Homo sapiens: one gene and its partners. The protein of the gene in region 2 interacts with the protein of the main gene of each other region in a pairwise test. Each region holds a gene or a part of one and is shown on either strand. Other genes may lie near its edges.

Evidence for each region.
Region 1: the proteins of SGTB (region 2) and WFDC12 interact in binary tests that used the Homo sapiens proteins (3 or more experiments, as listed by UniProt).
Region 3: the proteins of SGTB (region 2) and PODXL interact in binary tests that used the Homo sapiens proteins (3 or more experiments, as listed by UniProt).

The regions. Positions count from the first base shown.
Region 1 is NC_000020.11:45,122,814-45,126,563, reverse strand, and holds WFDC12 (WAP four-disulfide core domain protein 12 precursor), read left to right. Parts: upstream 1-2,098; 5' UTR 2,099-2,116; coding exon 2,117-2,195; intron 2,196-2,298; coding exon 2,299-2,457; intron 2,458-2,620; coding exon 2,621-2,718; 3' UTR 2,719-3,139; downstream 3,140-3,750. UniProt on the Homo sapiens protein: Antibacterial protein. Putative acid-stable proteinase inhibitor.
Region 2 is NC_000005.10:65,673,374-65,677,123, forward strand, and holds part of SGTB (small glutamine-rich tetratricopeptide repeat-containing protein beta), read right to left. Parts: intron 1-3,750. UniProt on the Homo sapiens protein: Co-chaperone that binds directly to HSC70 and HSP70 and regulates their ATPase activity.
Region 3 is NC_000007.14:131,500,970-131,504,719, reverse strand, and holds part of PODXL (podocalyxin isoform 1 precursor), read left to right. Parts: intron 1-211; coding exon 212-409; 3' UTR 410-3,750. UniProt on the Homo sapiens protein: Involved in the regulation of both adhesion and cell morphology and cancer progression. Functions as an anti-adhesive molecule that maintains an open filtration pathway between neighboring foot processes in the podocyte by charge repulsion.

The DNA of each region.
Region 1 (3,750 bases), on a different chromosome or scaffold from region 2:
TTAGTATGCACTTAAAAATATGTTAAGAGGTCATGTCTTATAGTATATATTTCTTACCACAATTTTTTAAAAAAACACGGTGTTGAGCAAAGCATGCAAAATACAAAAGAATACTTAGGCCATAATTACGCTTACACGAAATTAAACAACACGTATCACTAAGCAAGCCATAGCAAGAGAGCAAAACTTTAAAGGAAAACATGAGGATGATTAACAGAAAGTTCAAGATAGTGGTTACCTCTGAAGTAGGGATGGTAATGTCCTATTCTAAATTGATAGGTTCATAGGTGTTTATTATTCTTTTTCAAAAGGTATAGAATGTTGATTACATTCTTTCATATGTAGGATTTATTTTACAATACTTTTTTTAAAGAAGTATCATCAACAGTCAATTACAAATGACATTTTGGGGAGAACCGGAGAAACAAATATGAACTGGCTATGAGATGACATGCAGAAACTATTAATTATCTTAGATATGATAATGGCTTTGTGATTATATTGAAGAATATCCTTATTCTTAGAATTTGCATGCTGATGTATTTAGGAAATAGGAACATAATGTATTCAATTTCATTTCAAATATTTCAACAAATGTAGCTATAGGTATTCTAAAATATCCCAAACTATTAATAATTGTTAAATCCAGTTGTAGGTATACAAGTATCATTGTTCTGTTATTTCAATTTTTCTGTATGTTTAAAAAGTTCATAATAAAAAGGTGGAGGAGGAAATAGCCAATACATTCCAACATTCTAGTATTTGTTTATGAACTTCCCAGATTCCATCCCTGGTATCCAAATGATCTGAGTCCAGTGATATGACTGGTGAGATTGTAACCAAAGATTCACCACCTAATAAGGAGTAGGCTCACTTCCAGGAATGGAGGTATCCTCCCTGCCTCCACTTAACCCCAACTCAGTCCCTTCCACACTTCAGGATGTGGAACACCCCAAACCCAAATCTTTGCATTACTCAGGGGTCCTGTTAGTAAATGACAGAAATCCAATTCAGACCAGCTTAGGCAGAAAGGTGAATGTATTGGGTGGTAACATAACCCTGGGTATGAGTGGGGCTGATCTCAGGAAAAAGTTTAGTGAAGGACTAGATATCCTCTAAATTACTCCCTGTCCATCTCTCATCTCTTTTTATCAGCATCTTAGATTTATCTTCTCAGAATTTCTCTCTCACCAGGGCCAGGACCAAATTTCTGGAGTTTCTGGGCTTATATCTGCAACTTTTCCAACAGGAAGGATTTTCCTCCCTTTAGTACTCATTCAAAGAAAGGACCCCAAAAGCCTGGTCACACACACACACACACACACACACACACACACACGCACACACGTCCATGTCTTCTTCCAAATCCAGGAATTTGGGGGATGCAGGGGCAGAGGAGGGAAAACAAATCCTATGAAGATGATACAGTATAATTATTATGCTCATTGTATGAATGAGGAAACGGAGGCTTAGAAAGGTGAAGCTGCTTTCAAAGTCACACAGCTGGTGACAGGTCCAAAATCTGCTTTCCTCCAGGCCACATGAGATTGGCGGGGGGCAGGAGCACACGGTGCTGGAGCGCAAGGCTGAGAGTGAATGTTCAGGACAGACATTTTAAGCACTGCCATTCAGATTCTTCCTTGGGGTGAGGTGAGAACTGAGAACAAGTCCGGGGCAGCACAGGAAGGAGGGAAGATTTTGGTCCCAGGTGAATCAGGCATGAAGAGGGACTGATAGAGAACACGGTGGAGTTGAGGAAGTCTGGCCCTGCCACTGCCTCGTGTGTGAACTTGAGTAATTTCATGCCCTTTCTGTGCTTCTTTTCCTCCTTCCATAAGATAGTTTGGCCCTGGTGGCGCCTAATGGTCAATCACGTGTCCATTTCTTCTCCTCGTGTGAAGAACGAGGGTCGCTCTTGGATTTCTTCATCTATTCCAGTGCAGAGCCTTAGGGAAAGCCCCAAGTCCCTCCTCAGAAGGGGCCATTTCCAAATAGAGCTGGGAAGTGCAGCCTCCCTTGCCATTTTGAGCCTTCAGCTCCACCCACTGGCATGCCCAGCAGGAACACTATAAAGCCAGGCTCAGCCCAGCTCCCAGCCAAGCACCTGCCTGGCAACATGGGGTCCAGCAGCTTCTTGGTCCTCATGGTGTCTCTCGTTCTTGTGACCCTGGTGGCTGTGGAAGGAGTTAAAGAGGGTGAGCAGACATGGTGGAGCTGGGTGGGGCTGGGCTGGGGAGAGGTCCTGAGGGGCCCTCTGGGGCTGGAGTTCTCATATCACCTTGTGGCTTCCTCCACTAGGTATAGAGAAAGCAGGGGTTTGCCCAGCTGACAACGTACGCTGCTTCAAGTCCGATCCTCCCCAGTGTCACACAGACCAGGACTGTCTGGGGGAAAGGAAGTGTTGTTACCTGCACTGTGGCTTCAAGTGTGTGATTCCTGTGAAGGAACTGGAAGAAGGTAAGGAGACCTGCCTCCCAGGGCTGGGGCTGTCCCTTCCCTGCCTCTATCTGACCCATGAAAGTTCGGAGGAATTAGTCCCTTTAGCTGGTGTGGGGAGGGATGGCTAAAGCTGGCAGGGCCCTCAGAGACCACCTAGTCTGAACATCTCCATTGTCCAAAGGAGGAAACAAGGATGAAGATGTGTCAAGGCCATACCCTGAGCCAGGATGGGAGGCCAAGTGTCCAGGCTCCTCCTCTACCAGGTGTCCTCAGAAATGATGCTGGGTCCTTTCTACCTCTGGGGGTCACTCTCACTTGGCACCTGCCCCTGAGGGTCCTGAGACTTGGAATATGGAAGAAGCAATACCCAACCCCACCAAAGAAAACCTGAGCTTGAAGTCCTTTTCCCCAAAAAGAGGGAAGAGTCACAAAAAGTCCAGACCCCAGGGACGGTACTTTCCCTCTCTACCTGGTGCTCCTCCCTAATGCTCATGAATGGACCCCTCATGAATGAAACCAGTGCCCTTATAAGAGACCCCAAAGAGCTGCCTTGCCCTTCTGCAATGTGTGATCACAGCTAGAAGGCACTGTCAGAGAAGAGAAACTGGTCCTCACCAGATGCTGAATCTGCTGGTGCCTTGATCTTGGACTTCCCAGCCTCTAGAACTGTAAGAAATAAATATTTGCTGTTTATAATCCACCCAGTCTATGGTAATTTGTTATAGCAGCCCAAACCTGCTAAGACAACCTAATAGTAAAAAAAAAAAATCCTATTCAACATTATCAAAGTGAATAAAATATAAAATACCTACAAATAAATCTAGAGATGTACAGAAATTTTCTGAAAGGAAACCCTAAAACTTTATTAAATGACATTTTAAAAGATCTGGATAAATAGACTAAACTTTTCTACAGAATAAATAAATAAATGTTTTTTAAAAGATATGCTCTTCCCCAAGCAGGAAGCCTCCTCAAAGTGTTCACCTTGGTCAGCATAATTTATACCTGAAATATAATTAAAATTAAAACCCACTGGGTTTTGCAAACCCTAATGAAATAATTGATTCTGGCAATGATTATCCATGGCTTCTGAATATTTACAGGGTGCCATTTCATCACCCTGTGGTATATTTACAGTTTGTAAGAGGGAAAACACAAGTTTACAACTTGAGGATTCAGGTACACACCGAAAACACATTAATCTGTCTCCACAATGCTAAAAATGGGTAAAGCGGACCTCCGTTCCTCCTGAGGTGATGCAACACAAAACACACAGCATCATTCAAGAAGGGCTCCTGCCAAGACAGTTGA
Region 2 (3,750 bases):
TAGGAACCAGGCTGCACAGCAGCAGGTAAGCGGTGGGCGAGCAAGCATTACTGCCTGAGCTCCACCTCCTGTCAGATCAGCTGCAGCATTAGATTCTCATAGGAGCAAGAACCCTATTGTGAACTGCGCATGTGAAGGACCTAGGTTGAGTGCTCCTCAAGAGAATCTAACGCTCCTCTCCCCATCCTGCCCCTACCCCCTACACCCGGTATGGTCCATGGAAAAACTGTCTTCCATGAAACCAGTCCCTGTTACAAAAAGGTTGGGGACCGCTGTCCTATAGGGCTATTTTTTTTTTTTGAGATGAAGTTTCACTCTGTCACCCAGGCTGGAGTGCAATGGCATGACCTCAGCTCACTGCAACCTCTGCCTCCCGGAGTCAAGTGATTCTCCTGCCTCAGCCACCCAAGTAGCTGGGATTACAGGCATGCACCACCATGCCCAGCTAATTTTTGTATTTTTAGTAGAGACGGGGTTTCGCCAGGTTGGCCAGGCTGGTCTGGAACTCCTGACCTCAAGTGCTCCGCCCATCTTAGCCTCCCAAAGTGCTGGGATTACAGGTGTGAGCCAGCACACCAAGGCCTATAGTGCTTCTTTATCCTGTAGTACTTCCAGTCCTCTTCCCTCAGCTTGCTGATTAAGAGTTGTGGCCCTCCAGGTTGAGGGTTAAATGGAGGGAAAGGTGAAAGGAGCAGCAAAGTTCTTATTTGATGACTGGTATTATCTTACTAGTTTTGCATTGGTGCTTTTTGAGTTTGCAAGGTATTCAAAAACTACTGTGGTTCTCTTATGGGGTACTTTCTCATGTTCTTCAGACACTTCTCCTTTCCCTAGGCCCTGGAGATTTCTTACCTATTCTTTGAAAAGGGTAATTTACCCTCTGGATGGATGCTATGACTTTCCCTTCAGTCTTAGGTTCTTGGCAGTCCTCCAGAGATTCTCTGTGTTGGGATCCTGTCACACTTCCAGGAAAGCCTCTTGAACATATTCAGACACACTCTCTCACAATTGTGTGTGCTCACCTTGGTCCACAGGAAACACCTCTGCTCCACTCTCATCAGTACAGTAACTGCCCAAACCACACAGCTAATTCTGCCACTGGCTATCCAGTTGAACTATCAGGTAGAAAGTCTCTGTACCAGAAAAGCCCTTTCTCAGTGAGGGCTTGAGATGAGAGCAAGCCTCCCTAATTCCTTCATATAGGGAGCCCTAAAACTCTAATAGCTCTCTCCAAAAATCATGTTTTAATTTCCATCAACCTGGCCTTTTTTATGAGTCACAAAACATGTTTTTTATCCCCATCTTTTGCAACTCCTACATGGTGGTCTCACACCTTATTTTGGTACATAGCAGCTTGGAGCCTAAGCCAAATCTGAAACTAAAAGAATTCCATTTTTCACATCTTGTTACAATGCCATAACCTGAGTCCTAGAATGGGTAACCATTCTTAAAAAAAAAAATGAAGTCACAAGATCTACAAAACATGTATTTGCTAGCATGGTAAGAAGGCTGAAATTTGATAAGGGAAAAATAAAAACTACCAGTTGCTAAAAAGACTTATCTCACTGGGAATGAGTCATCTGTGCATTTCAGTTCAACAGAAGATTTAATGGATGCAAGACACATTTTTTGAAGGAAACAAAAGATGAATAAAAACTGATTCCTGCCTTCCAAGGGCATATCATGGATAGAATAATTCTCATCCAAAGTATACAGTCACCCCAGGAGCTTGATATGCCCTGGTAACATCCTAAACCCACTAAATCAAAGTTACCACATATTGGACCAGAGCGTGTATGTTCTCAAAAAGGCCCATACATTATTTTGTTGTTTTGTAAGAATAGAAGACAAACACATGAGATATCTATATCTATATCTATCTATCTATATCAAATAAACTCTAAAGATAGAAAACAAGGCAGACAATGCTGAGGGGCAAGCTAGGGAACCACAATGGCCAAATACTCAAACTGCAGATGTTAGATATCTTCCTAGGACCACTTTTATGTAAGAGAGTAGTTTTTAACCTTTCATATATTGGCAGATTCCTGTGCCAATCTCATGAAAAATATGATGCTCTCCCTGGAAAAATGCACACATACACATGTACACAGATTTTTATATATAATTTTGGAAAAATCCATGAGCTTCCTAAAGTCCATCCATGGCTTTCCCACAGGAGGTACATGGACACGTTAAGAACCCTGCCATTCAGCCAGAGAGAAAGGCCAGGCCACCTACAAAGGGAAGCCCATCAGACTAACAGCAGATCTCTCAGCAGAAACCCTATAAGCCAGAAGAGATTGGGGGCCCATATTCAACATCCTTAAAAGAATTTCCAACCCAGAATTTCATATCTGGTCAAACTAAGCTTCATAAGCAAAGGAGAAATAAGATCCTTTTCAGACAAGCAAATGCCGAGGGAATTCATTACTACCAGACCTGCCTTACAAGAGTTCCTGAAGGAAGCACTAAATATGGAAAGGAAAAATTGTTACCAGCCACTACAAAAACACACTGAAGTATACAGACCAGTGACACTGTGAAGCAACCACATAAGTTTGCAAAATAACCAGCTAGCATCATGATGACAGGATCAAATTTACACATAACAATACTAACCTTAAATGTAAATGGGCTAAATGCCCCAATTAAAAGACACAGAATGGCAAACCAGATAAAAAAACAAGACCCATCAGTGAGCTGTATTCAAGAGACCCACTATACATACAAAGACACACATAGGCTCAAAATACAGGGATGAAGGAAAATTTACCAAGCAAATGGAAAACAGAAAAAAGCAGTGGTCGCAATCCTAGTTTCTGACAAAACAGACTCTAAACCAAAGAAGATCAAAAAAGACAAAGAAGGAAGCAGAGGTTGCAGTGAGCTGAAATTGCGCCACTGTACTCCAGCCTGGGTGACAGAGCAAGACTCTGTCTCAAGAGAAAAAAAAAAGACAAAGAAGGGCATTACATAATGGTAAAGGGTTCAATTCAACAAGAAGAGCTAACTACCTTAAATATATATGCACCCAATACAGGAACACCCAGATTCATAAAGCAAGTACTTCGAGAGCTTCAAAGAGACTAGACTCCCACACAATAATAGTGGGAGACTTTAACACTCTGCTGACAATAGTAGACAGATCATCAAGACAGAAAACTAACAAAGATATTCAAACCTGACCTCAGCTCTGGATCAAGTGGACCTGATATCTACAGAACTCTCCACCCAAAAACAACAGAATATACGTTCTTCTCATCACCACATGGCACTCAATTCACTCAAAACCACACAACTACATGGAAATTGAACAACCTGCTCCTGAATGACTTTTGGGTAAATAATAAAATTAAGGCAGAACTTCTTGAATGAGAAGAATGAACTTCTTTGAATGAGAACAAAGATACAACATACCAGAATCTCAGACACAGCTAAAATTTCATTCTTGTTAAGAAAGAAATTTATAGCACTAAATGCCCAAATCAAAAAGCTAGAAAGATCTCCAGTTGACAACCTAATATCACAAATAAAAGAACTAGAGAAACAAGAGCAAACAAACCCCGAAGCTAGCAGAAGACAAGAAATAACCAAGATCAGAGCTGAACTGAAGGAGATAGAGACACAGAAAACCCTTCAAAAAAAAAAAAAATGAATACAGGAGCTAGTTTTTTGATAAAATTAATAAAATAGACCGCTAGCTATACTAATGAAGAAAAAAGAGAGAAGATTCAAACAAACACAATC
Region 3 (3,750 bases), on a different chromosome or scaffold from region 2:
GTGAGGGTGAGGGGCAAGTCTTTGTTCCCAACTAGTTCCGGGCAGGCTGAGAGCCAGAATGACCACCAGGAGCAGCCAGCCCCACAGGCGAGCAATGAGGGCCTGCTTTAGCTACAGTGGGGCTCCTGAGTGGGAGGGGTACGTACATGCGCTGTATTAAGCTCAGAGCCCTCTGAAACCCCCTTCTCACCGGTCACCTTCCCCACTCTAGCAGCGGCTAACAGAGGAGCTGCAGACAGTGGAGAATGGTTACCATGACAACCCAACACTGGAAGTGATGGAGACCTCTTCTGAGATGCAGGAGAAGAAGGTGGTCAGCCTCAACGGGGAGCTGGGGGACAGCTGGATCGTCCCTCTGGACAACCTGACCAAGGACGACCTGGATGAGGAGGAAGACACACACCTCTAGTCCGGTCTGCCGGTGGCCTCCAGCAGCACCACAGAGCTCCAGACCAACCACCCCAAGTGCCGTTTGGATGGGGAAGGGAAAGACTGGGGAGGGAGAGTGAACTCCGAGGGGTGTCCCCTCCCAATCCCCCCAGGGCCTTAATTTTTCCCTTTTCAACCTGAACAAATCACATTCTGTCCAGATTCCTCTTGTAAAATAACCCACTAGTGCCTGAGCTCAGTGCTGCTGGATGATGAGGGAGATCAAGAAAAAGCCACGTAAGGGACTTTATAGATGAACTAGTGGAATCCCTTCATTCTGCAGTGAGATTGCCGAGACCTGAAGAGGGTAAGTGACTTGCCCAAGGTCAGAGCCACTTGGTGACAGAGCCAGGATGAGAACAAAGATTCCATTTGCACCATGCCACACTGCTGTGTTCACATGTGCCTTCCGTCCAGAGCAGTCCCGGGCAGGGGTGAAACTCCAGCAGGTGGCTGGGCTGGAAAGGAGGGCAGGGCTACATCCTGGCTCGGTGGGATCTGACGACCTGAAAGTCCAGCTCCCAAGTTTTCCTTCTCCTACCCCAGCCTCGTGTACCCATCTTCCCACCCTCTATGTTCTTACCCCTCCCTACACTCAGTGTTTGTTCCCACTTACTCTGTCCTGGGGCCTCTGGGATTAGCACAGGTTATTCATAACCTTGAACCCCTTGTTCTGGATTCGGATTTTCTCACATTTGCTTCGTGAGATGGGGGCTTAACCCACACAGGTCTCCGTGCGTGAACCAGGTCTGCTTAGGGGACCTGCGTGCAGGTGAGGAGAGAAGGGGACACTCGAGTCCAGGCTGGTATCTCAGGGCAGCTGATGAGGGGTCAGCAGGAACACTGGCCCATTGCCCCTGGCACTCCTTGCAGAGGCCACCCACGATCTTCTTTGGGCTTCCATTTCCACCAGGGACTAAAATCTGCTGTAGCTAGTGAGAGCAGCGTGTTCCTTTTGTTGTTCACTGCTCAGCTGATGGGAGTGATTCCCTGAGACCCAGTATGAAAGAGCAGTGGCTGCAGGAGAGGCCTTCCCGGGGCCCCCCATCAGCGATGTGTCTTCAGAGACAATCCATTAAAGCAGCCAGGAAGGACAGGCTTTCCCCTGTATATCATAGGAAACTCAGGGACATTTCAAGTTGCTGAGAGTTTTGTTATAGTTGTTTTCTAACCCAGCCCTCCACTGCCAAAGGCCAAAAGCTCAGACAGTTGGCAGACGTCCAGTTAGCTCATCTCACTCACTCTGATTCTCCTGTGCCACAGGAAAAGAGGGCCTGGAAAGCGCAGTGCATGCTGGGTGCATGAAGGGCAGCCTGGGGGACAGACTGTTGTGGGAACGTCCCACTGTCCTGGCCTGGAGCTAGGCCTTGCTGTTCCTCTTCTCTGTGAGCCTAGTGGGGCTGCTGCGGTTCTCTTGCAGTTTCTGGTGGCATCTCAGGGGAACACAAAGCTATGTCTATTCCCCAATATAGGACTTTTATGGGCTCGGCAGTTAGCTGCCATGTAGAAGGCTCCTAAGCAGTGGGCATGGTGAGGTTTCATCTGATTGAGAAGGGGGAATCCTGTGTGGAATGTTGAACTTTCGCCATGGTCTCCATCGTTCTGGGCGTAAATTCCCTGGGATCAAGTAGGAAAATGGGCAGAACTGCTTAGGGGAATGAAATTGCCATTTTTCGGGTGAAACGCCACACCTCCAGGGTCTTAAGAGTCAGGCTCCGGCTGTAGTAGCTCTGATGAAATAGGCTATCCACTCGGGATGGCTTACTTTTTAAAAGGGTAGGGGGAGGGGCTGGGGAAGATCTGTCCTGCACCATCTGCCTAATTCCTTCCTCACAGTCTGTAGCCATCTGATATCCTAGGGGAAAAGGAAGGCCAGGGGTTCACATAGGGCCCCAGCGAGTTTCCCAGGAGTTAGAGGGATGCGAGGCTAACAAGTTCCAAAAACATCTGCCCCGATGCTCTAGTGTTTGGAGGTGGGCAGGATGGAGAACAGTGCCTGTTTGGGGGAAAACAGGAAATCTTGTTAGGCTTGAGTGAGGTGTTTGCTTCCTTCTTGCCCAGCGCTGGGTTCTCTCCACCCAGTAGGTTTTCTGTTGTGGTCCCGTGGGAGAGGCCAGACTGGATTATTCCTCCTTTGCTGATCCTGGGTCACACTTCACCAGCCAGGGCTTTTGACGGAGACAGCAAATAGGCCTCTGCAAATCAATCAAAGGCTGCAACCCTATGGCCTCTTGGAGACAGATGATGACTGGCAAGGACTAGAGAGCAGGAGTGCCTGGCCAGGTCGGTCCTGACTCTCCTGACTCTCCATCGCTCTGTCCAAGGAGAACCCGGAGAGGCTCTGGGCTGATTCAGAGGTTACTGCTTTATATTCGTCCAAACTGTGTTAGTCTAGGCTTAGGACAGCTTCAGAATCTGACACCTTGCCTTGCTCTTGCCACCAGGACACCTATGTCAACAGGCCAAACAGCCATGCATCTATAAAGGTCATCATCTTCTGCCACCTTTACTGGGTTCTAAATGCTCTCTGATAATTCAGAGAGCATTGGGTCTGGGAAGAGGTAAGAGGAACACTAGAAGCTCAGCATGACTTAAACAGGTTGTAGCAAAGACAGTTTATCATCAGCTCTTTCAGTGGTAAACTGTGGTTTCCCCAAGCTGCACAGGAGGCCAGAAACCACAAGTATGATGACTAGGAAGCCTACTGTCATGAGAGTGGGGAGACAGGCAGCAAAGCTTATGAAGGAGGTACAGAATATTCTTTGCGTTGTAAGACAGAATACGGGTTTAATCTAGTCTAGGCACCAGATTTTTTTCCCGCTTGATAAGGAAAGCTAGCAGAAAGTTTATTTAAACCACTTCTTGAGCTTTATCTTTTTTGACAATATACTGGAGAAACTTTGAAGAACAAGTTCAAACTGATACATATACACATATTTTTTTGATAATGTAAATACAGTGACCATGTTAACCTACCCTGCACTGCTTTAAGTGAACATACTTTGAAAAAGCATTATGTTAGCTGAGTGATGGCCAAGTTTTTTCTCTGGACAGGAATGTAAATGTCTTACTGGAAATGACAAGTTTTTGCTTGATTTTTTTTTTTAAACAAAAAATGAAATATAACAAGACAAACTTATGATAAAGTATTTGTCTTGTAGATCAGGTGTTTTGTTTTGTTTTTTTAATTTTAAAATGCAACCCTGCCCCCTCCCCAGCAAAGTCACAGCTCCATTTCAGTAAAGGTTGGAGTCAATATGCTCTGGTTGGCAGGCAACCCTGTAGTCATGGAGAAAGGTATTTCAAGATCTAGTCCAATCT